Linked DNA regions of Homo sapiens: regions 1 and 3 are each linked to region 2. Evidence: fine-mapped expression QTL. A gene starts in region 2. Each other region holds a variant in brackets. All regions are shown on one strand. Distances are between the middles of the regions.

Region 1 (7,917 bases), 100 kb before region 2:
CCTATAATCCCAGCTACTTGGGAGGTTGAGGCAGGAGAATTGCTTCAACCCCAGGAGGTGGAAGTTGCAGTGAGCCAAAATCATGCCACTGCACTCTAGCCTGGGCAACAGAGCGAGACTCTGCTTCAAAAAAAAAAAAAAAAAAAGTATATTGGGGCCAGACGTGGTAGCTCATGCCTGTAATCCCAGAACTTTAGGAGGCTGAGGCAGGAGGATCGCTTGAGGCCAGGAGTTCAACACCAAACTGGGCAACATGCTGAGACCCTGTCTCTAAAAAAACGGAAAGAAAGAAAGAAAAAAAGTATATTGGTACTGTTCTAAGTGCTATGGAGGGAGAAAGCAGTGAACAGGACAGACAAAAGTCTTTGCCCATTTTTATTCTAAATGAAGTTAAATCTGGCTCTGTACCACATTGGTCAAGGGAGATGGGAAATCTGGGTTTTGTCATGTTTACTTTGAGGAGGGGGGCATTTCCTAGGGTATCTTCACCTTCCCAGGGTCCTACACATTCCAGAATATTCAGAGGTGAGCCCTCTGGTCTTCAGACCACACTGGCTACCACTGCTGGGTGTTGATCCTAGTCCTGTGGTTTCTTGGCTGGCCCACTTCTAATATTTTCAGGGTCTAGGATGAGAATACAAATGGAAGTTTATATTAAATATTTGAAAGTTATAAATCAGGCCAGGTGCGGTGGCTCACACCTGTAATCCCAGCACTTTGGGAGGCCGAGGAGGGCGGATCACGAGGTCAGGAGATCGAGACCATCCTGGCTAAAGTGGTGAAACCCCGTCTCTACTAAAAATACAAAAAATTAGCCAGGCGTGGTGGCAGGCGCCTGTAGTCCCAGCTACTGGGGAGGCTGAGGCAGGAGAATGGCGTGAACCCGGGAGGCGGAGCTTGCAGTGAGCCGCGATTGCGCCACTGCACTCCAGCGTGGGCGACAGAGCAAAACTCCGCCTCAAAAAAAAAAAAAAAAAAGAAAGTTATAAATCAAGCTGACAACCTCTTAAATAGGTTCTGTCATTCTGTCTTGACAAATATATTTTCATAACAAGCTGGAAGTCCTTGTTCAAATTTAGAATTTGAGGACTTCTTGGGCTTCTGCATCTGAATGTGCAGGTGTAAGAAAAGCTGGCCCTAGGCCCTAGCTTTGGCCTCTGATGATATTGTGATTAATAATAAGAAATATATATTGGGTCTTCTTCCTTTTCCTACACAGAGCTTCATTTCCTGGGTGATTGCAGTGTTTTGTTCTAATGAGGCATCTCTCAGTGGCCCCTAGATAGCTTAAGGATGGGGGCTGGTTGCAGAGGAACCATCCAGGTGATTACAGGGTTGGAACATTCAGCCCCATCCCCTGACCTCCAGGCAGGAGAGAAGGCTAAACATTGAGTTGATACCAATGGCCAGTGATTTATTCAGTCATGCCTATATAATGAGGCCTCTATAAAGACTCAGGAGAACAGTATTCAGAGAGCTTCCAGGCTGGGGAATGTGTGGACATGCTGGGAGGGCAGTATACCCAGAGAGGGTATGGAAGCTGCATGCCCCTCACCACATACTTTGCCCTATGCATCTCTTTTGTTTGGCTGTTCCTGAGTTGTATCTTTTATGATAGATGGGTAAATGTAAGTAAAGTGTTTCCCTGAGTTCTGTGAGCCATTCTAGCAAATGATTGAGCCTAAGGAGGAGGTCATAAGAACCTCTGGTTTATAGACAGTCTGCCAGAAGCACAGGTGGCAACCTGGACTTGTGATTGGTAGTTGATGTGGGGGCAGTCTTGTGGGACTGAGCCCTTAATCTTTGGAATCTGTACTGACTCCCACTAGATAGTGTCAGAAGTGAGTTTAATTCCCAGTTGGTGTCCATAGAGAATTGGAGAGTGGCTTAGTATGGGAACAAAACCCCACACATCTGGTGACAGACATGATGTATTGAGAGTGGTGTGAGGATAGAAAAAAATAGTTTGTTTTTCCTGTATATTTGGCGTTTTTTCCTTCTTACACTTCCCCTCTTTCACTTCCCATCCCAGCTCTGTTCAGGACAATAAAGGAACTTGCATGCATGTGTGTGTAGACCAGCTTACACATCCAAGCTCTGTTCACCAATCCCCATTCCTGCCAAAAAGTCACCTTTTAACTGTCCTTCATGTGAAGGCGTGTACACAGAGGCATGGCTGCCTTCAGGAATGTAAATCCTGGAAAGAGACTGGCTCAGGACCTGGAAATAGTTCAGGCCATTTGGGCTGGGAATTCTGGGGTCCCATTTAGATGAAGCACGGTCTACAAGGGTGAGGTGTGGGCTCCAGGTGGACATGCCCCTTGTGGACCTCTTCTCCCATAAAGAGGGGCACAATCCCATGGAGGGCCAGAGTAGGGCTCTCTAAAGTGTGGGACCCAGGACAAGAGCTCATCTCTCCTAGGTGTACAGGTGGTTCTGTCCTTGTGGATAGGTGATTCCTCTACTTGTTTTTTTTTTTTTTTTTTTGAGACGAAGTCTCACCCTGTTGCCCAGATTGGAGCGCAGTGTTGCAATCTTGGCTCACTGCAACCTCTGCCTCCTGGGTCCAAGCGATTCTCTTGCCTCAGCCTCCCAAGTAGCTGGGATTACAGGTGTGCACCACCATGCCTGGCTAATTTTTTGTGTCTTTAGTAGAGACAGGGTTTCACCATGTTGGCCAGGCTGGTCTCGATCTCCTGACCTCGTGATCTGCCCTCCTCAGCCTCCCAAAGTGCTGGGATTACAGGCTTGAGCCACCATGCCTGGCGATTCCTCTACTTTTGAGCACAGGTTGAGCCAGAGGTGTATACTAAAATTGGAAGACTTGAAGTCTAGTGACCAACCCTTCTTGCCCCCTGCAGTGCGGCACACTGCCAAGTCAGCTATCACGATCAGAGGCCTTGGACCCAAGTACTGTGTGGGAGCACACATGTCCCTGATTTTCTTGAAACCTATAAGCACTTTCTCCTAAACTTGGGGAGATAGTCCCCAAATAACTTTATTTCCAGTATTGGTCTACTTCTTCTCCCAACCCTTGGTGCCTCCTGCCACCTCCAATAATCCAGCAATATCACCTCCAAGACTAGATAGAAGGTTGTATTCTAAGTGTCAGGCAACTTTTAATTTTGGCCCTGCGACATTAGGGCTATTAACCATTCCCTGAAGCAGAGGGCTACTTTCTTCAGATGAGTGAGGCAAAAATACCTACAGCAGCCTGAGCAAAACACAGATTAACATCTCAGTTCCCCCCCAACAGATACATATTATCTCATTCATTTCTTTTTTTCATTTTCTTTTTATTTTTGAGATGAAGTCTCACTCTGTCGTCTAGGCTGGAGTGCAATGGCACGATCTCGGCTCACTGCAATCTTTGCCTCCTGCGTTCAAGTGATTCTCCTGCCTCAGTCTCCCAAGTAGCTGGGATTACAGGCATGCACCACTACACCTGGCTAATTTTTTTTTTTGAGACAAAGTTTTGCTCTTGTTGCCCAGGCTGGAGCACAATGGTGCGATCTCGGCTCACTGCAACCTCTGCCTCCTGAGTTCAAGCAATTCTCCCGCCTCAGCCTCCTGAGTAGCTGGGATTACAGGTGCCTGCCACCACCCCTGGCTAATTTTTGTATTTATTTTAGCAGAGATGGAGTTTCACCATGTTGGCCAGGTTGGTCTTGAACTCCTGATCTCAGATGATCCACCTGCCTCGGCCTCCCAAAGTGCTGGGATTACAGGCATGAGCCACCATGCCTGGCCTAATTTTTGTTTTTTGTTTTTGTTTGTTTTTTGAGATGGAGTCTCACTCTGTTGCCCAGGCTGGAGTGC[G/A]ATGGCATGATCTTGGCTCACTGCAACCTCCGCTTCCTGGGTTCAAGCGATTCTCCTGCCTCAGCCTCCAGAGTAGCTGGGACTACAGGTATACGCCACCACGCCCAGCTAATTTTTTTGTACTTTTAGTAGAGACAGGGTTTCATCATATTGGCCAGGCTGGTCTCAAATTCCTGATCTCAAGTGATCCGCCCGCCTTGGCCTCCCAAAGTGCTGGGATTACAGGCGTGAGCCACCGCGCTTGGCCCATTCATTTATTCATAACGGTTTTGTTAAGGAAATTAAACTGAAGCTCAGGAAGATCAAACAACTTGCTTAAGGCCATAAAATAAGGAGAAGAACTAGAATTCATTTCCAGAGCTGTCTTACTTCAAGGCTTGTGCTCTTTTCACCATCCACCAGCATCTACCACATCTAAGAGTTTTAAAGACATTTTATTTTTGTTTTATTTATTTATTTATTTAAGATGAAGTCTTGCTCTGTCGTCCAGGCTGGAGTGCAGTGGCGCAATCTCGGCTCACCACAACCTCTGCCTTCCAGGTTCAAGCGATTCTGCTCTCTCAGCCTCCTGAGTAGCTGGGATTACAGTCACAAGCCACTGCACCCGGCTTATTTTTTGTATTTATAGTAGAGACAGGGTTTCACCATGTCGGCCAGGCTGGTCTTGAACTCTCAACCTCAGGTAATCCACCCACCTCGGCTCCCAAAGTGCTAGGATTACTGGCGTGAGCCACAACGCCCAGCCAATAAATTTTAAAAATCAAATTTGTGAAATTGCTGGCCAAAGGGTGTTATGTAAGTATTCCATTCATTAGAATAGATCCTGAGATTTGTTTTTGAGAATCCAAAGTATTACAAGGGATATAGTAAGAGGGGAATTGGAGCCATTAGGGGATGCATTTCTATAAAGTGATCATGCAGCATTTTATTGAAATGTGGACTGTATGCTGGACAGCACTAAGGGATTAGCGAACTCATTTTGCATTATTTAATTCCAAAAAGCCACTAAGATGCTCATCAGAAAAGCACTGTCAAAAGTGGAAATAGATAAATGTCATCTGTAAATAAATTAGAATTGATTGTGAAATATTTGGTCAGGGCCGGGTGCAGTGGCTCACACCTGTAATCCCAGCACTTTGGGAGGTTGAGGCAGGCAGATCACAAGGTCAGGAGTTCAAGACCAGCCTGACCAACATGGTGAAACCCCGTCTCTACTAAAAATACAAAAATTAGCCAGGCGTGGCAGCGTGTGCCTGTAATCCCAGCTACTTTGGGAGGCTGAGGCAGGAGAATTGCTTGAATCCGGGAGGTGGAGGTTGCAGTGAGCCAAGATTGCACCACTGCACTCCAGCCTGGGTGACAGAGTAAGACTGTCTCAAAAAAAAAAAAAAAGAAAAGAAAAGAAAAAGAAATATTTAAATATTTGGTCAGTTCTTATTGTTTGTTGTCCTTCCTTTTCTTCCTTCCTTCCTTCCTTCCTTCCTTCCTTCCTTCCTTCCTTCCTTCCTCCCTCCCTCCCTCCCTCCCTTCCTCTCTCTCTCTTTCGAGACAGGATCTCACTCTGTCACACAGGCTGGAGTGCAGTGGTGCAATCTCGGCTCACTGCAGCCTCCACCTCCTGGGTTCAAGCAATTCTTGTGCGTCAGGCTCCCGAGTGACTGGGATTACAGGTGTGCGCTGCCACATGCGGCTAATTTTTGTATTTTTAGTACAGACGGAGTTTCACCATGTTGGCCAGGCTGGTCTCAAACTGCTGACCTCAAGTGATCTGCCTGCCTCGGCCTCCCAAAGTGCTGTTTCTTTATTCCTATCATCCTGCTCAGGGCAGAATGTGTCCTTCTAAAATGTAGGGCAGAAAGACTCCTGAGGTCTGGTTTTGTTGATGGTTTATATTGCTTGTTGTGAGTTCCAAAGATACACATCCTGAGGGAATAACAAAGACTTATTAAACTGTAACATTTAAAATCATGGAACACAAAGCTTTTTTTTTTCATTACTTTTATGCTACAACCCAGACACTATTAAGTACAGATCCTAATTGCCTCACTAATTTAAGAAGAGAATGAGGAGTAAGATAGGGAAGGGGGAAAGAAGCCAAGCAAAGGTACAATTTCAGATGATGTCTGGCCTCAGCCTGATCCTGTGGAGAGCTCTGGAGCATAAGTCATACCTTCAGGCTTATCTAGCTTTGAGGCAAATAAGTTTTGCTTTCATACTCAGACACTACTCAGGCAATGGCTATGGTTCCCTTGGGACAATTCTGGGTTTCGGGGAATAATAGTGAAGTGGATTGATTGAAAGGAAACCAAACAGAAAGTGGGAGATGGGCCCCAGAGCTAATAAAAAAAGGATCAGAGAAGCTGTGGGTGATGCACTGACAGTATCAGCTATGCCAGAGACCATCTATTCTATAGGTTAATGCTTTCACTGTAGGTCTGACTCTTTCAATCAACAGGCAAAAGCTTCATTAGCAACAAGTAGTTGTAGAGGAAGAGACTCTCAGGGCTTTGAACTGTTTAGAGTAGCCTAAGGAATTCAAACATTTTCCTACCCAAGATTCCAGGGGAATCAGAGTAGCAGGAATATGATCATATCTCCTAATACAGTGTCAAAAAACCTTTTAGGCAATTGATCGCTAAGTACAGACCGTCCCCTACTTATGATGGTTTGACTTCCGATTTTTCAACTTTATGATGGTACGAAACCACTACAATTTTGAAGTAATGTACAGTATTCAATAAATTACTTGAGATAGTCAACACTTTATGATAAAATAGGCTTTGTGTTAGATGATTTTGCCTGACTACAGGCTAATGTAAATGTTCAGAGAACGTTTAAAGTAGGCCAGGCTAAGCTGTGGTGTTCAGTAGGTTAGGTGTATTAAATGCATTTTCAACTCGAGGTATTTCAACTTGGATGGGTTTAGCAGGTGGTAACCCCAAGGTAAGTCAAGTAGCATCTGTAAATGTCATGCTACCAGCACTTTAGGAAAGGTAAAACATTTATCAGACTCAGACAGTCCTTATAAGCTTACACTATAGCCAGGTAGATGAGATTCACATGCATGAAACAAGTATGAGCAACACTGGACACGACATAATTAAAGACTGTTGAATTCTGAAAAAAGAGGAATAGACTCCTGTTGGGTACACTCAGAGACTTACAGTATAAGTGGTGAATAAGATCGGATCAAGTCTAAGCACGCAGCTATTCAACAAATGTAAACGATGTCTTTGTGCCAGATGATACGCATTTCAGGGCTTAGGGCTGGGGGACAGATCACAGGTTAGTGTGATAAGTACAATGATAGAGGATGCATTTTGGGGAATTATTTGTGTGCTGTTAGTATTTTTTAGTAGAAAGCTCAATTACTGCATTTCATTGAAGTTAAGTCCCATGAATTGTAAGATATGCCATTATTTTGTTTAGCATAATGAAAAAAAAATAACCTGCCAGTTAAGCAATGAATATGTATTATCAATTGTAAGAAATATCCGAATCACAGAGGTGTTACAATGTAAAAAAAATGTTCATTTTAGAACCAATGAAACAGGGTTAGAGGAGACTTACTTTGGATTTAAAAAAATTTTTTTTTCTTTTTTCTTTTGTCTTTTGTTGTTTTGTTTGCTTGCTTTCATTTTATTTTATTTTATTTTATCTTTTGAGATGGAGTCTTGCTCTGTTGCCCAGGCCAGAGTGCAGTGGTGCCATCTTGGCTCACTGCAACCTCCACCTCCCAGATTCAAGCAATTCTCCATGCCTCAGCCTCCTGAGTAGCTGGAATTACAGGTGCCCACCACCATGCCTGACTAATTTTTGTAGTTTTTTTAGTAGAGATGGAGTTCTGCTATGTTGGCCAGGTTGGTCTCGAACTCCTGACCTCAGGTGATCTGCCAGCCTTGGCCTCCCAAAGTGCTGGGATTACAGGCATAAGCCGCCATGCCCAGCCTCTCTTACTTCTAATTAGAACTAGTTCAGTCTTGTAACAAAGACCAATAATAATTTATGAATAGTAGCTAATATTTATCAGATGCTCAGTATGGACATGACCTTGGGCTAACTGCTTTTTACCCATTACTTAATTTAATTATTTCTTAA
Region 2 (7,751 bases):
TACAGGCGCGCGCCACCATGCCCGGCTAATTTTTGTATTTTTAGTAGAGACGGGGTTTCACCGTGTTAGCCAGGATGGTCTCGATCTCCTGACCTCGTGATCCGTCCGTCTCGGCCTCCCAAAGTGCTGGGATTACAGGCGTGAGCCACCGCGCCCGGCCTTCTCTTTTCTTTTTTTGAGACGGAGTCTCACTCTGTCGCCCAGGCTGGAGTGCAGTGGCGTGATCTAGGCTCACTGCAAGCTCCGCCTCCCAGGTTCACGCCATTCTCCTGCCTCAGCCTCCAGAATCGCTGGGACTACAGGCGCCCGCCACCACGCCCGGCTAATTTTTTGTATTTTTGGTAGAGACGGGTTTTGCACCGTGTTAACTAGGATGGTATTGATCTCCTGACCTCGTGATCCCCCCGCCTTGGCCTCCCAAAGTGCTGGCATTACAAGCATGAGCCACTGTGCCAGGCCGGTTCAGCTTTCAAGTTAAACAATGATACAAATGCTTTTCCTTGAGAAACTATCTTATCTCAGTTATGCCTCAAGAATTTTTTCTTTTTCTTTTTTTTTTTTTTGAGACGGAGTTTCGCTCTTGTTGCCCAGGTTGAAGTGCAATGGCACGATCTCAGCTCACTGCAACCTCCGCCTCCCGGGTTCAAGTGATTCTCCTGCCTCAGCCTCCCAAGTAGCTGGGATTACAGGCATGTGCCACCACGCGCAGGTAATTTTGCATTTTTAGTAGAGATGGGGTTTCACCACGTTGGCCAGGCTGGTTTCGAACCCCTGACCTCAGGTGCTCTGCCCGCCTCAGCCTCCCAAAGTGCTGGGATTATAGGCCTGAGCCACCACACCCGGCCAAAAGAAAAGCCTCAGGATTTAAGAGTTTATACTTTATGAGGTTGTACTTTATGAGTACTTCCCATTTTGTCACAAAAAAAATTTTTTAAAAAGTGCACTCAAAGACTGAAATTTAATAAAATTAAGAATTCTTACTGCTTCATCAAGGATATTCTTAAGTGAAACTGACTTAAAAAAAATTGAGTGTATTGTTCCAGGATAAACTATGAGATTCAAAGAAGTTGTTCAATACATTATTTCATCACCACTTGTGTTTCTTGTCAAGATTTATGTAAAAGAGGATCTTCAAGAATTAGTTGGTGCTGACACTGGATGGGTATAAGCAAAGCAACAAGTCCAGCTACATGAATAATTATGTCCATTTTAAAGGAATTATAATTCTGCAGATGACATAGTAACTCAGTCTTTATATTTGCAACTAAATTTCTTTCTTTTTTTTGAGACAGTCTTGCTCTGTTGTCCAGGCTGGAGTGCCGTGGCACCATCTCAGCTCACTGTAACCTCTGCCTCCCAGGTTCAAGTGATTCTCCAGCCTCAGCCTCCCGAATAACTGGGATTACAGGCATGTACCACCATGCCCAGCTAATTTTTTTTTTTTGTATTTTTAGTAGAGACAGGGTTTCACCATATTGGCCAGGTTGGTCTCAAACTCCTGATCTCAAGTTATCCGCCTGCCTTGGCCTCCCAAAATTCAGGGATTACAGGCATGAGCCACCTCGCCTGGCCTGCAACTAAATGTCTAATTTGGTGAGTTATTGCATCTTTGGAAAGTAGCACTCCCATGAGTTCTTTTACTGATTATCAGCTAGCAGGCATTCATTAGTCTTTTAGCTATTGCATGTCCTTCTCCTATCAATGAAATATAATAATTTCATGTGTAAGATGCTTCAGTAGGTTTTTCATTTTTACTTTGAAAATGGTAATACAAAAGCTTTGGCTTTTATAAAGCATATCATCTCTATGTTGAAAGTATTAAATTCCCTTTCTTTTAAATTCTGACTGGTCTGAAAATGATGCCTCAACTTGATTGGCACCATAATAGTATTTGAAAATGTTCTGTTGAATGACATAAAATAAGGCAAGTGATTAACATCTCTAATGCCAAGGGAAAGAAAGAAGCTTTTGTCATACTTTCCTTTGTTATTTATAGTTTCGACCAGATTTCTCCCTTTCCCTGAGTCAGTGAATTCTGATACTGATGTCAGCTTCATCTTTTTCGGCATCTTTACAGACGGGAAGGTTAGAAAGCGAATCTTCTAGTATCCCCTTTTTAAGCCAATGGAAGAACCTAAAATTAAAAAACTATACATAAAACAAAATTTAATTTAAAGATAAAATATTAAATTCCTTTTTTTTTTGGAGACAGAGTCTTGCTCTGTCACCCAGGCTGGAGTACAGTGGTGCGATCTTGGCTCACTGCAACCTTCGCCTCCTAGGTTCAAGCAATTCTCCTGCCTCAGCTTCCCAAGTAGTTGGGACTACAGGTGTGCCACCATGCCCGGCTAAATTTTTTGTATTTTTTTTTTTTTGAGGTGGAGTCTTGCTCTGTCGCCCACGCTGGAGTGCAGTGGTGAAATCTCGGCTCACTGCAACCTCCGCCTCCCGGGTCCCAGCAATTCTCCTGCCTCAGCCTCCCGAGTAGCTGGGATTACGGGCGCACGCCACCATGCCCGGCTAATTTCTGTATTTTTTTAGTAGAGTCATAGGTTGGCCAGGCTGGTCTTGATATCCTGACCTTGTGGTCTGTGCACCTTGGCCTCCCAAAGTGCTGTGATTACAGGTGGGAGCCACCGTGCCTGTCCGAATATTTTGTATTTTTAGTAGAGACGGGGTTTCACCATGTTGGCCAGGTTGGTCTGGAACTCCTGAGCTCAGACAATCTGCCCGCCTTGGCCTCCCAAAGTGCTAGAATATAGGCATAAACCACCGCGCCCGGACGACAAAATATTAAATTCTAGGCAGGGCGTGGTGGCTCACACCTGTAATCCCAGCACTTTGAGTGGCTGAGGCGGGCAGATCATGAGGTCAGGAGACCGAGGCCATCCTGGCCAACGTGGTGAAACCACATCTCTACTAAAAATACAAAAAATTAGCCGGGTGTGGTGGCACGCACCTGTAATCCCAGCTACTCGGGAGGCTGAGGCAGGAGAACTGCTTGAACCTGGGAGGCGGAGGTTGCAGTGGGCCGAGATCACACCACTGCACTCCATCCTGGGCAACAGAGCGAGACACCATCTCAAAAAATAATAATAAAATAACAAAATTAAATTCTAAAAGAGTATCCCTTTCTGGCTGGGCGCAGTGGCTCGCGCTTGTAATCCCAGCACTTTGGGAGGCTGAGGTGGGCGGATCACCTGAGGTCAGGAGTTCGAGACCAGCCTGGCCAAAATGGTGAAACTCTGTGTTTACTAAAAATACAAAAATTAGCCGGGCATGGTGGCGGGCGCCTGTAATCCCAGCTACTCGGGAGGCTGAGGCAGGAGAATTGCTTGAACCCAGGGGGAGGAGGCTGCAGTGAACCCAGATTGTGCCACTGCATTCCAGTCTGGGTGATAGAGCGAGACTCTGAAAAAAAAAAAATTAAATGAATAAATGAGTATCCCTTTTAGATAAAGTTTAAATATTTTAAAATGTTCTCAATATATTAAAAAATATTCTTGCGAGACAAGCCAACAAATTGAACTTTTTTCTTATGTTCCCATATAGGTATTAAAACAACTTCAGGATTTCAAAAAAACTCATTTATTAGGTGACAAGGAGGTTACAGAGATTAGAGCAGGTATAACCGAAGATAGCTTGTAAGTGTAGCTGTAGCTGGTGGGCCGGTTGAGGTTCTGGACTTCGCGGTGCAAAATAATTTTGAAGTCCAAAGTAAAAGCAAGCAAAAGAGTTTATTGCAAAGCGAAAGTACACCCTCACAGCTGATCAGAGCGGGCTGCTCAAAGGTGAGACAGCATGCACTGACACTGGGGAAACTCCCTTTGTAGGAGTCTCACAGGATCATTCATGAAGCGGGGAGAACGGGTGCTGCTATTAAGCACGTTCTCTGGTTTTCTGTCGCCATGTGCGCTGTGGTTGTATATGCTAGTACATACACTGCATGTCTTATTAGTATCTTAAATCTTCACCCAGGAGTGGTGTTTTTTTTTTTTTTTTTTTTTTACTATTATAATGAGTATAATTCAGCCCAACGACACTGATCATGGGTTTCTGCGCTTGTGAGAGTTTGGGGATTTTCCCTTCTGCTCTCGTACCTCTTTGCTGCAAAATTTTCTAACCAGGAGCCTCGGATGTGGTTTGTACACTATGGGCTGGTTTGTTCTATTTATTTAGCAAGTTTGTTCCCCTTGAAGGGAGGCTATCACCACCTACCTAACCTACCTCCTAGAAACACACTAGGAGTACTGAGAGCAAATTGCATTAATCTCTGAAAACGCACGTATTTATGCCCTAAACCTACTACCTTAGAAAATTCTAGAAAACACAAGGATACTCCAGGATACATTTTACCAGCTAGTCAATCGTCATCTAGCCGCTTGAAAACTCTGTACATTTCCAACAGAATGAGGGTAAAAACGGCAAATAACACGTAAGAAACGTTATCAATGTTGTTTTGACTTTGTGAATTCCCTAGAAGGGTCTCAGCGACCCTGAGGTCACCAGACCACATTTCGAGAGCCATTGTACCAGACTCTGTTCTAGATAAAAGACGGAGCAATCGGAATGAATAAAATACTCTCTCTATGGGGAGCTGTTTACGTAGTGGCAACTGCGACCTGTTCTAAAGTGGAACAGAACCGAGCGCTGTGAGAGGGTGGGACTTGGAGACCTATCCTTGCCCGCCGGGCCAGGGGAGTGGGCTCTAGAAGGATGACCTTTCAACTGCGACCTGCTGAGGAGGAGTCGGCAAGGGTGGCCGCCGACCAGTTCTCTTTCCCGCCCACCTCCCCAAATCCCAGGAGAAGAGGGGCGGACGGGAAGCGACAGTGGCCGCGAGTCCCCGGCACGCGACGGGCTCTCAACCTGGCACGCCGAATCCTCAGGACAGCCCCGCTATCACGCAACTACTCGGGTGTCCCAAGAGTCGCCAGGGCCGGAGCCGCGCGCGGCGCCGGGGACCCGCGTGAAACCGCCTGTGGGAAGCGGGCGGGTGGCGCGCGCTCCGGGGACAGTGAGAGGCGGCGGACGGCGCGGGGACGTCCCGAAAAAGGCGCAGCCAGGAAGACGCAACTCCTGACGCGGTCTCGGGCTACGCGGAGGCGGCTAGTGGGAAAGGGGGACTCTGGGAGACAGTGCCTAACAGGGCCAGGCCCCCGACGGCTTCCTCAGGAGGACTCACGGTTCTGGGGGATTCCGGAACCGCTACCCCGTCGCGAGAAAGGAGGTCTACTTACGCGCGCAATCTCGAGCGAGCGGCCTTTTCCACCCCCGCGGTCTCTTGCGCCCTCTGGTGGCCTCTCGCGAGAACGACGCTGAACTTGTTCAGGTGGGACGCCAATAAAGATTTCTTATTCAAAAAACAGGAAGTGCCTACGGAGGCCGGGCCGGCAGCGGCGGCCGGGCATGAAGCCGGGCGGCTACGGGATCGCGGGCGGCGGCGGCATCGCGGGCGGCGGCGGCGATGAGCGACATAGTGGAGAAGACGCTGACGGCGCTGCCGGGACTCTTTCTGCAGAACCAGCCCGGTGGTGGGCCCGCGGCCGCCAAGGCGTCCTTCTCCTCGAGGCTGGGCAGCCTTGTCCGCGGCATCACAGCCCTCACCTCCAAGCACGTAGGTGCCCGCCGGCCCGGGAGCTCAGGGACATCGGAGTGAGGCCCCCGCGCCAGGAGGCCCTGGCCGGGCGGCGAGACTTCAGGGCCTCTGGGGTTAGCCCTCCGGCGGGGCTCAGGGGCTGCTGTGTCGGTTCGTCCTTTCGTCTGCCTGGAAGCTTCACTTTCCTGCTGGGACTGACAGCAGGGAAGCCGAGTTTCCACAGTTAGTTCTGACACTGACTCTTTGATCGGGGGCACATCTCTGTAACCTCTGAGCCTCCGTGTGTTTTCTCAACGTTGTGGTGGAAAAGTACTGATACATAATTCATAGGTTTTTTGTTTGTTTTGAGGATTGGGTGAGATGTCAAGCGTGTGAAAATACCTAGTGCGATGGAAGTGTCAGACATTATTTACCTTCCACAAAGTTTTTTTTCCCTACTCAGTTTCCTTCTCTCCCCCGGTGCCTTCAACTGAACAACAGTTCAGATGTCGCATACCTGAAGAGATCCTGTGAGCCTCTTGTTGAATATCTTTGGGGAGCTTGAGGTTCTTGGGTTACAACAACGTGTTGGGCAAAGAAAAAGCACAGTTCTCTCAAAATGTAAAATTTGCTAAGTCTCTGCCTCAAGTGGGCTTTGAAAATGAGCAGTTATAAAAATTCTTAAACTTTTAAAATTTTTAAATTTTTATTGACGGAGTCTCTCTCTGTCGCCCAGGCTGGAGTGCAATGGTGCGATCTCGATCTCGGCTCGCTGGAGCCTTAAGGTTTTAAAAATTTTAATTTTTGTTTTTTTTTGAGACGGAGTCTCGCTCTGTCGCGCAGGCTGGAGTGCAGTGGCGCGATCTGGGCTCACTACAAGCTCCGCCTTCCGGGTTCACGCCATTCTCCTGCCTCAGCTTCCCGAGTAGCTGGGACTACAAGTGCCCGCCACTGCCTGGCTAATTTTTTGTACTTTTCGTAGAGACGGGGTTTCACCGTGTTAGCGAGGATGGTCTCGATCTCCTGACCTCGCGATCCGCCCGCCTTGGCGTCCCAAAGTGTTGGGATTACGTGCGTGAGCTACCCTGCCCGGCCTTAAAATTTTTAAATTTTTAATGACGGAGTCTCGCTCTGTCGCCCAGGCTGGAGTGCGATGGTGCGATCTTGGCTCACTGGAGCGTCTGCCTCCCGGGTTCAAGCGATTCTCCTGCCTCAGCCTCCCAAGTAGCTGGGATTATAGGCGTATGCCACTACGCCCGGCTAATTTTTGTATTTTTAGTAGAGACAGGATTTCACCATGTTGGGCAGGCTGGTCTTGAACTGACCTCAAGTGTTCGCTCACTTCGGCCTCCCAAAGTGCTGGGATTACAGGCATGAGCCACCGCGCCGGGCCCCCACAGGCGCTCGATGGTTGCACGGATTGTGTAGTATACCGATTCACAGCTACAAGGAGTTTATATCTTAAAAAGAGCACGTGTTAATGTCATTATTTGTTCAACAGATGTTTATGGAACAAGGTTATGTGTTAGACACAGGAAAATAGAATTAAACACATTCCCTTTTCCCAAGGAATTAGTCATTCGTTTTGGGCTTAAGACAAGTATAAGCATGACTACAATGCAATAGAAGTGCTAAAAGAGAAGGAAAGACAGAAAAGAAAGTGCTCTGAAGGTTTAAAAAAAATATTTTTTTGGCAGCTCTAATAAGTTGATGCTATCCGGAGAGAACCTGCTTCACATTCCAGAATCATTACTTGTGGGCTTGTCTTGTTTTGTTTTGTTTTTGAGATGGAGTCTCACTCTGTCGCCCAGGCTGGAATGCAGTGGTGCAATCTTGGCTCACTGCAACTTCTGCTTCCTGGGTTCAAGTGATTCTTCTGCCTCAGCCTCCCTGGTAGCTGGGATTACAGGCACACGTCACCATACCCGGCTAATTTTTATATTTTTAGTAGAGACAGGGTTTCGCCATGTTGGCCAGGCTGGTCTTGAACTCCTGACCTCAGGTAATCCACCTGCCTTGGCCTTGGCCTCCCAAAGTGCTGGGATTACAGGCGTGAGCCACCACGCCTGGCCATTTGTGGCCTTAATAATGTTGTTTTTCTTAAGGTTTTTGTCCTTTGCTAATTTTTAAGGGATCCTCAATAAAATTTTTTAAAAAGTTATTTTTGGTCTTA
Region 3 (7,917 bases), 170 kb after region 2:
TTTCTCACTTATTTGAAACATTAAAGGCCTCAGTTTGAATCTCCACCTACCTAGGGGAGTTGTATTTCATCACTTTTTTAAATACAAAAGGGCCAGTCTTATGTGATAGAACATACTCATCAAGACTTGAAGATAGATGTAGCTTTCATTTTTAGAGGGAATTCTGTATATTTCAACAGTTACATATTAATGTTGCTTTTCATATTGATTTTACAGCCAGCTCTGAAAAGTGAATGAGTGTTTGATAATTTTACTTACCAGAGCTCACTGAAGCAGATACTTGTGAAGCCACTGGGGGGTGAATCATCTCCAAATCAACAGGTTAATTTTGGAGATCTGAGAGATATTTTTGGCTCACTGCAGAAAAGTAACCATCACTAAAAACAACATCTACTTACATGATTTCTTTAAATGAAGCTTATTCATTCCCCCAAATCCCTTGCATCTAACAAATAACTAGTGTCTTTCTGAATGGTAGATTATATTCAGGCATAATAATAATAAAGTGCTTGCTCTTCCATGTGCTTTATGCACAGTTAAGCCATCATATTCTTGCAACAACTGTATCAAGTAGGCACTAATGTCAGCGATAGCAATGGATGCAGCATTTCACATCAAGGAAACCAAGGCAAAGAGAGATTAAGTAGCTTGTCTGAATCCACCATTTAGAAAGTGGCAGAGCTGGATTGGGCAGACTCTGCCCCAGAGTCTGCCTGAGTTCAGTGCTTCAGCCTGCCACACTGAGCTGCGATGCATGGGGTGACAAACATCAATTAGTTTAAATGTTTTCTGAATTATTGCCCACTTTAAGATGGAGATTGAGCAGTATTTTTCCCTCACAAGAATTAATTTTCTGGCCGGGCGCGGTGGCTCACGCCTGTAATCCCAGCACTTTGGGAGGCCAAGGCGGGCGGATCACGAGGTCAGGAGATCGAGACCATCCCGGCTAAAACGGTGAAACCCCGTCTCTACTAAAAATACAAAAAAAAAAATTAGCCGGGCGTAGTGGCGGGCGCCTGTAGTCCCAGCTACTTGGGAGGCTGAGGCAGGAGAATGGCGTGAACCCGGGAGGTGGAGCTTGCAGTGAGCCGAGATCCCGCCACTGCACTCCAGCCTGGGCGACAGAGCGAGACTCCGTCTCAAAAAAAAAAAAAAAAAAAAAAAGAATTAATTTTCTAAAAACCACCAAGTGTTTCAAACATATAAATAGATAAAAATATGTAATGCCTAAAAACATATACATAAACATAAACAAAATAGAAGATAATTTAACAAATACTGTGTAGCCACCACCCAGATGGAACAATTGTTAATATTTTAAATATTAAGCATTTCAAACATATGGCCAAAATAGAACATAATTTAACAAACACTGTGTGGTCACCACTCAGGTGGAAAAATTCTTAATAGTTTACCCTCAAAGACAGGGAGAGGTAAAGCCCTCTTTGCTTTCAACTCCCTCTCTTCTGCTTCTAGCTCCCAGATCAAACTGCACTACAGAAGTTGTATTTTTTTTTCATCTATCCACGTTTTTATGCTTTTGTCTCATTTCATAAGTATGCATGCATCAACATCATGTTTAAATTTCACACAGAAGGTGTCATACTACACAGATCCTTCTACAACTCTTTATTCCACATCCTGTTTTCAAGATTTATCTTGTTTAATCATTTAGTTGCTTATATAAATATATATCTTCAAGTTTCCTCCTGATGGACATTTAAGTTCTTTCCATTTTCTGCAAGGAAAAAGTGTCTCCTTGTGCGCACACACACAACAGTCTCCTGGGGTCTATACCTATAACTTGATTGCCAAGGCCTGCAGCAGCAAGGGCTGCCAATGGCTCTCCAGAGAGACTGCACTCATTTTCACTCCCAGCAGCAGTGTCTTGAGTTCCTGTGGTTGCACTTCCTCATCAACACTTCAAATCATCCAACTTTTTAATTTTTGCCAATCTGATAGGTATAAAATGGTACCTTGTTTTAATATGCATGTTCCTGATTGCTGGTGAGAGTCAATGTATTTGTGTTTATTGGGCATTAAGGTTTTTCTCTTCTGCAAATTGCTTGTTCATATAATTTACTCATTTTTTCAGTTGAATTATATATATTTTTCTTTTTTGTATATTTTGCTTATGATTCTAAGCCTCTGCTGATCACAGGGCTGGCAACTATCTCTTCCCAGTCTGTAGCATTACATTTTAACTTTATTATGGTGTCTTTAATCATACAGAAAGCTATTTTTTTTTTAGATGGAGTTTCACTCTTGTTGCCCAGGCTGGAGTGCAATGGCACGATCTCGGCTCACCGCAACCTCTGCCTCCTGGTTTCAAGCAATTCTCTTGCTGCAGCCTCCCGAGTAACTGGGATTACAGGCATGCACCACCATGCCCGGCTAATTTTGTATTTTTAGTACAGATGGGGTTTCTCTATGTTGGTCAGGCTGATCTCGAACTCCTGATCTCAAGTGATCTGCCTCCTCTTAGCCTCCCAAAGTGCTGAGATTATAGGCATAAGCCACCGCGCCTGGCCAGAAATCTAAAATTTTAATAGTCTAATTTATCAATCTTTTCCTTGATGGTTGGTGGTTTCTGTATCTCATTTTAAAAATTCTTCTCTTGCCATGAGGTGATAAAAGATAACCATATATTTTCCAGAGGTTTAAAGGTTTTGTTTTTCACATTTAGGTCTTTAATCAATCTGAAAATTATCTGTACATATTGCATGAGGTTGGGAATCTTTTTCTCCCCACGATTTATTCTATTTATTGAATAGTTCATACTTCTGCTACCTATCTGGTAGGCCCCTTCTTTTCATATCAGGTTTCTATATTGCATAGATCTGTTTTTGAGTTTTTTACTCTGTTTATTAGACTCTGGTCTATTTCAGTACAAAAACCAAGTTTTCTTAATATAACTCGTAAGTCATGATAGTCCAAAGGGAAGTGCCCCTCCTCACCCTCACTTTATTCTGCTTAGAAACTGTCTTGATTATTCTTGCCTTTATTCTTCCATAGGAATTTTAGGATAATATGATCAAATGCCATGAGCACTCTATGTTGATCTGAAGTAAACTGGGATCCTTTTTTTTTTTTTTTTTTTTTTTGAGACAGAGTTTTGCTCTTGTTGCCCAGGCTGGAGTGCAATGGTGCAATCTCGGCTCACTGCAACCTCCACCTCCCGGTTTCAAGCGATTCTTCTGCCTCAGCCTCCTGAGTAGCTGGGATTACAGGCATGCGCCACCATGCCTGGCTAATTTTGTATTTTTAGTAGAGATGGGGTTCCTCCATGTTGGTCAGGCTGGTCTCAAACTCCCGACCTCAGGTGATCTGC[C/T]TGCCTTGGCCTCCCAAAGTGCTGGGACTATAGGCGTGAGCCACCACGCCCAGCCTAAACTGGTATCTTTATGATACTGAATCTTCCTCTCCATTAACATGACATGTCTCTCCATTTAGTCATATCTTCTTCTGTGTCCTTCAATTATGTTTACAGTCATCTCCATAAATCTCTTGCATATCTTTCATTAGATTTACTTCTAGCTACCTTACAGTTTTGGTTGCTGCTGTTAATTTTTTTCTATTACAGTTTCTAAATGGTTATTAATGATGCATAGGAACCCAACTGATCCCTGTATACTTATCTCCAATTGAGACATTTTGCCGAGCTCTGTTATGAGTTCTAATTTATATAGCATCTCTTGGACTTTTTAATGTAGACAACATTGCCTACACAAAATGATTGTTTTCTTTGACCCCCTATTTCTTTTTCCTGCTTTATAACACCGGTAGAAAACATCCAGCACAGTGTTGAATAGCATTACATGGCATCCTGGTCTTGTTCCTAACTTTAACAGGATTGTCTCTAAAATTTCCCTGAGTATGCAATGTTTGCTGTGGGTTTTGATGGATACCCCTTATCAAGTTATCTTCCTTTTATTCCTATTTTGCTAAGGCATTGTTTGCTTTTAAGTAGAAATGTATCCAATTTTAGCAAACAATTTCTTTGTATCCACTGAGATGATCATATAATTTATCTTATAATATGTAAATTTAACCAATTATTCAAAGACTTTTTGATTTAAATCATCATTATATTCCCAGGATAAGCCCTACTTGGTCAATGATGCATATGTATTTACTATACTGGTGAATTCTACTAGTAAATATTGCATTTTGCAACTATACTCAAAAGTGAGATTGGTCTATAACTTTTTCATAGTACTATCTTTGTCAAATTTTGATGTCAGAGAAGACTAGTCCCATAAAACGGATTGAGTAGCTTTCCTTCTTTTTCTGTGTCTGAGAGTGTTTATGTAAGGTGGGGATTAACTGTTTTTTGACAGTTTTAGTAAAACTAGCCTGCATTTCACTCGACATTCTGAGGATATCTTTCCATGACAACAAATGTACTACATCATTGTTTTTTGACAATAGCACATGCCACCATTTTCTCTACTGGTCCCCTCTTGGTAGGTTTCAAACTGTTTCCAGTTTTTGCTATGAAGTATCTGCAGAAAGTAACAACCTAGCAGCAGGCTGCCTGTTGGGGAAAAGGGTGCCTTTTGGCACATGGTAGGATTCCCTTCTAATGCTCCTTCCTAAGTAACAAAGTAACAGGAGATACTGAAGAGGAGCTCCATGAACAGACCTCTGGCTCTGCCCACCGGATCCCATCCCTCCTACCAGAGGCCTGCTTGCCCAATTCAAAGCCAAAAGGAGGCTCAACTCTTCACAAAAATGGTTTTGCCCTAACCCAACTGGCTGAAATAGTCGGGATGACAGCCAAACAGTACCAGAAGTCAAGCCAGCTCTCCCTAAGGGTGCTGCCCTGGCTGCCAGCCATGCCCTGACTCTCGTGCCATAGCTGAATCCAGTGGACCCTCGCCCAGGTGGAAGAGGCACAGCTGACAGGTTGTTTGTTGCCGCTGAAGGTCCCCTCCCACCATGAGCCCCTGGCCAACCCTTATATCCCTCTTGTCAGGGAGGCTGGCCCTCACACCTAGCTCAGTGGTAGCCCTGTTCCTGTGCTGCACTGCGACTGGCCATCTACTTTCCGCATCCGGTGCTGAGTTCTTAGGGATTGATGCTCAGAAGACCTGTGAATCCCCATAAGCAGAACTGCCTACTATGCAGAAGTTACTCAGTATATGTCTTGTATATATGTCTCAGTAAATGAATGACTGATGAATGATTTTAGCGTGTTTGTTCTTGTTCTTTGAGGCTCAGATTCCATCAGTTCAGGACCCACACCTGGAAGGAGGTGCATATTCACAATGTGCAGGTGGAACTGAATGTACTCAAATGCCTTCTGAACTAAGCACAAGGTCCACCCTTTGCCTTTCATACGGAGCTATCTGCTTGGCCCACTTGGGTTCTGCCTGTCTTTGACCCAACAACAGCAGCATCACCTGGGGGCCAGAGGGATTGCCCACCATGCTCTCAGTGTTCAGTTCCAGCAGTAAACCCTTTCTCCATGGCAGAAGCACCCCTCCTTCCTGCCACCCCTGGAGCCTCCCCATTTACGCCCCTTCACACTCATGAGCTATTTTAATATACTCAGGAGCTGTCGGGCTTGGAATAGCACAGTCCACGTTCTGTCTCTCTGGGCAATCCTCTCTCTCTCTGCTGGCAGCTCCCAAACTTTCTCTACCACGGCAGGCACCCAAGAACTCAGGCTCAGAACACCAGACTGCTAACAAGGACACCAGTAGGATGCCACATTCAGAGCCATGGGAGCATGCCAACACCGTAATATGTGAAATTAGTAAACAGTCTAATGCAATAAAAATGTCAGTCTTTGGAATGCTGTAATTTTTGGAGGATGGATGCAGAACCTAAAATGTGCAAAACAATAAAATGGAACAAACTCGTCTATCTTGGAAAAAAGAAACAAAACATGGCCTGTGACAGTGGACTGAGGCTACTGGAAGGTGCTCTAATTAATTAATGTAGTAACATGTAAACCCTCAGCTTAGTGAGCTTAACAACAACTAGACAAACTGTTAGCTGTACTTGAGAGGTCAGAACACACGAGGGAGAAGAAACCAGAAGGTACTTCTGTATGGGAGATGATTTGGCAGACAGCATTATGGCTTCCTCAGTGTTCTACTTGATTTTTTTTTTAGTGAAATATGAATCCTGAACAATGACATTTTTGGATTTCAGTCAATCTGAATGCGGAACAGCAGGAAAGGGACATGTAATATATTGCTTATAATCTCCCTTACATATACTCTGTAGTAAAACTGGTTTTGTTTACGGATTTAAGACAAGTCAAGCCACATTTTTAATATCTGCTGGTGTCATGGTCAATATCTGGCCTGTGGAATGACAGTGTTGAGGGATGTTGTTAGCAGATGGGAGGTGGGATGACACCCGCAAGATCTCCTGAGGTTGGGCTCCTAAGCTCTGCTGGGACCGCTACTGTGATGGAACCACTCTGAGTCCAGGGGGAATCCCATTCACATCACGTAATGGGAGGGGCCAACTAGCTGTGGAGGCTTAACTTCCTGGAAGTTTCTCAGAAATGTGACTTTCTCTCAGGCTTCCTTTCTAAATTAAACTCTAAGGCCACAAATGGCTAAGAATAGAATTTTTTATACTTCATGGTAACGTAAAGAAGTACCACCAAAAGGTTTCACTGTTTTCCAACCAAATCACCAGGTGTGGTCACTCAAAGATGCTGAGAATGGCTGTCCTGCACAATCAAGATGCCAGGGTGTATCCATGGAGTAGCTAGCTCCTCGGATACAGGGAAAACGAGAGAGCCCAGTCCTGGTCCTGACTTTTGCCACTGAGCCAGCAGCAGGAAGTGGAAGACAGAGCCCGGCCTCCAGCCCTGCCCTGCCCCTGCCACCCCCAGCGCACTCACTGTGTGCCATGGGCCCATCTCTTTACCTGCTGGTTTCTGGGTCTGTTAAATGAGAAAGCAGACTAGAAGATTCTGCTAATTTGCTTTCTCAATTTAATAGTAACCCCTTAAGTATGATAAATTGAATTTTTGTCATCATCTGGGCACGCATCAGATGTGCGCTGATGCCTGTGGAGAGGTCCTCCGCGTTCCTCCTCTCCCGTGCTGGATTCCTGCCGCCCCCCATTCTACTCCCGCCATTCTTCGTAAATGGAATCCTCCTGCTTCTTTCTCACTGTGTAACACCTGGGGCATCGACCTTGGAGCCTCCAGCTTTCCTTATCTGTGACTTCCCTCCAAAATGCTGCTCCCTCCCCTGTTTCCCTGGGGCCCTTGACTCCTCCATTAGACCTCAGCCTCCTCTGTCAGTCCTTGGCCTGTGCTCGCCACAGAGCGTGCGGTCAGCAGGCGTCATGCTGGCTCTCCCCAAGGCCTCTTCCTGTGTTGGCCTCAGTGCCCACAGACCAAACCACAGACTGCCAGGCCCCCAGGCCCCGGCAGGCCGCCCTGTGCTGACGTAGCTGTGGGTGGGACTCGTGTCCGAAACCTCAAGGCCAGCCCTTCCCGCTGGTCCCATATCCCAGCTGCCCCGCCTGTCTCCCCAGCCTCTCATCCCGCTTTGCTCAGCGCAGCTCCTCCCTAAGCCAAGCACGCCCTGCTGCCCACCCCGCTCCCATCTTATGCAAGGGGGCCTAGTCAAGGAACCCCCACCTGGCTTCAATTGTTTGTACCCTGGCAGTTCCGAGAGGGGAGACCTTTGATAGAGACAGGAGACAGCCAAGGGGTCCCTTGCAAAACACCCCATTCAAGCCTAAAACAGTCTGAAAGCTGAAAGACCCGACTGCCGGTCCCGTAAGAAACCCGCAACCCAGAGGGAGAACACCCTTGTCTGCCCTCCCTTCCCCGACAGCTTCTCGCTTAATAATATGCACATGCGCACTGGGGGAACAGGGGGCGGAGCCTCAGGATTTCGCGCCTTGGGCAGGGGGAGGAGCCTGGACTCCAGCTCGAGT

Alleles and levels. Positions count from the first base shown, and alleles are read on the strand shown. Sizes are in standard deviations (SD) of each study's normalised expression. Not every link is listed here.
In carriers of allele T in region 3, the expression in monocytes after R848 of the gene that starts at base 5,372 in region 2 tends to be lower than with C alone (large effect, 1.0 SD a copy in Quach 2016).

The links. PIP is the estimated chance that this variant, and not a neighbour inherited with it, causes the effect. A credible set is the group of variants that fine-mapping cannot tell apart.
Region 1: its variant is the best candidate, but not a certain one, in a credible set for the expression of AP4E1 in whole blood (TOPMed, PIP 0.59).
Region 3: its variant is the best candidate, but not a certain one, in a credible set for the expression of AP4E1 in monocytes after R848 (Quach 2016, PIP 0.57).

The regions. Positions count from the first base shown.
Region 1 is chr15:50,801,959-50,809,875 of GRCh38, forward strand. No RefSeq gene overlaps it. Among named protein-coding and RNA genes, the nearest start is that of SPPL2A, 40 kb to the left of the region's middle. The variant G/A (reference allele first, on the strand shown) is at 3,820.
Region 2 is chr15:50,903,312-50,911,062 of GRCh38, forward strand. It overlaps AP4E1 (adaptor related protein complex 4 subunit epsilon 1), which reads left to right and starts at 5,372. Exons shown (of 21, transcript NM_007347.5): 1 at 5,372-5,617. The coding sequence starts at 5,468. RefSeq lists enhancers at 4,965-5,706, 5,181-5,470, 5,491-5,660, 5,707-6,448.
Region 3 is chr15:51,069,910-51,077,826 of GRCh38, forward strand. All of the region lies in intron 1 of TNFAIP8L3 (TNF alpha induced protein 8 like 3), which reads right to left. The region is part of intron 1 of MIR4713HG (MIR4713 host gene); the gene reads left to right. Among named protein-coding and RNA genes, the nearest start is that of TNFAIP8L3, 21 kb to the right of the region's middle. RefSeq lists enhancers at 6,862-7,418, 7,683-7,917. The variant C/T (reference allele first, on the strand shown) is at 3,332.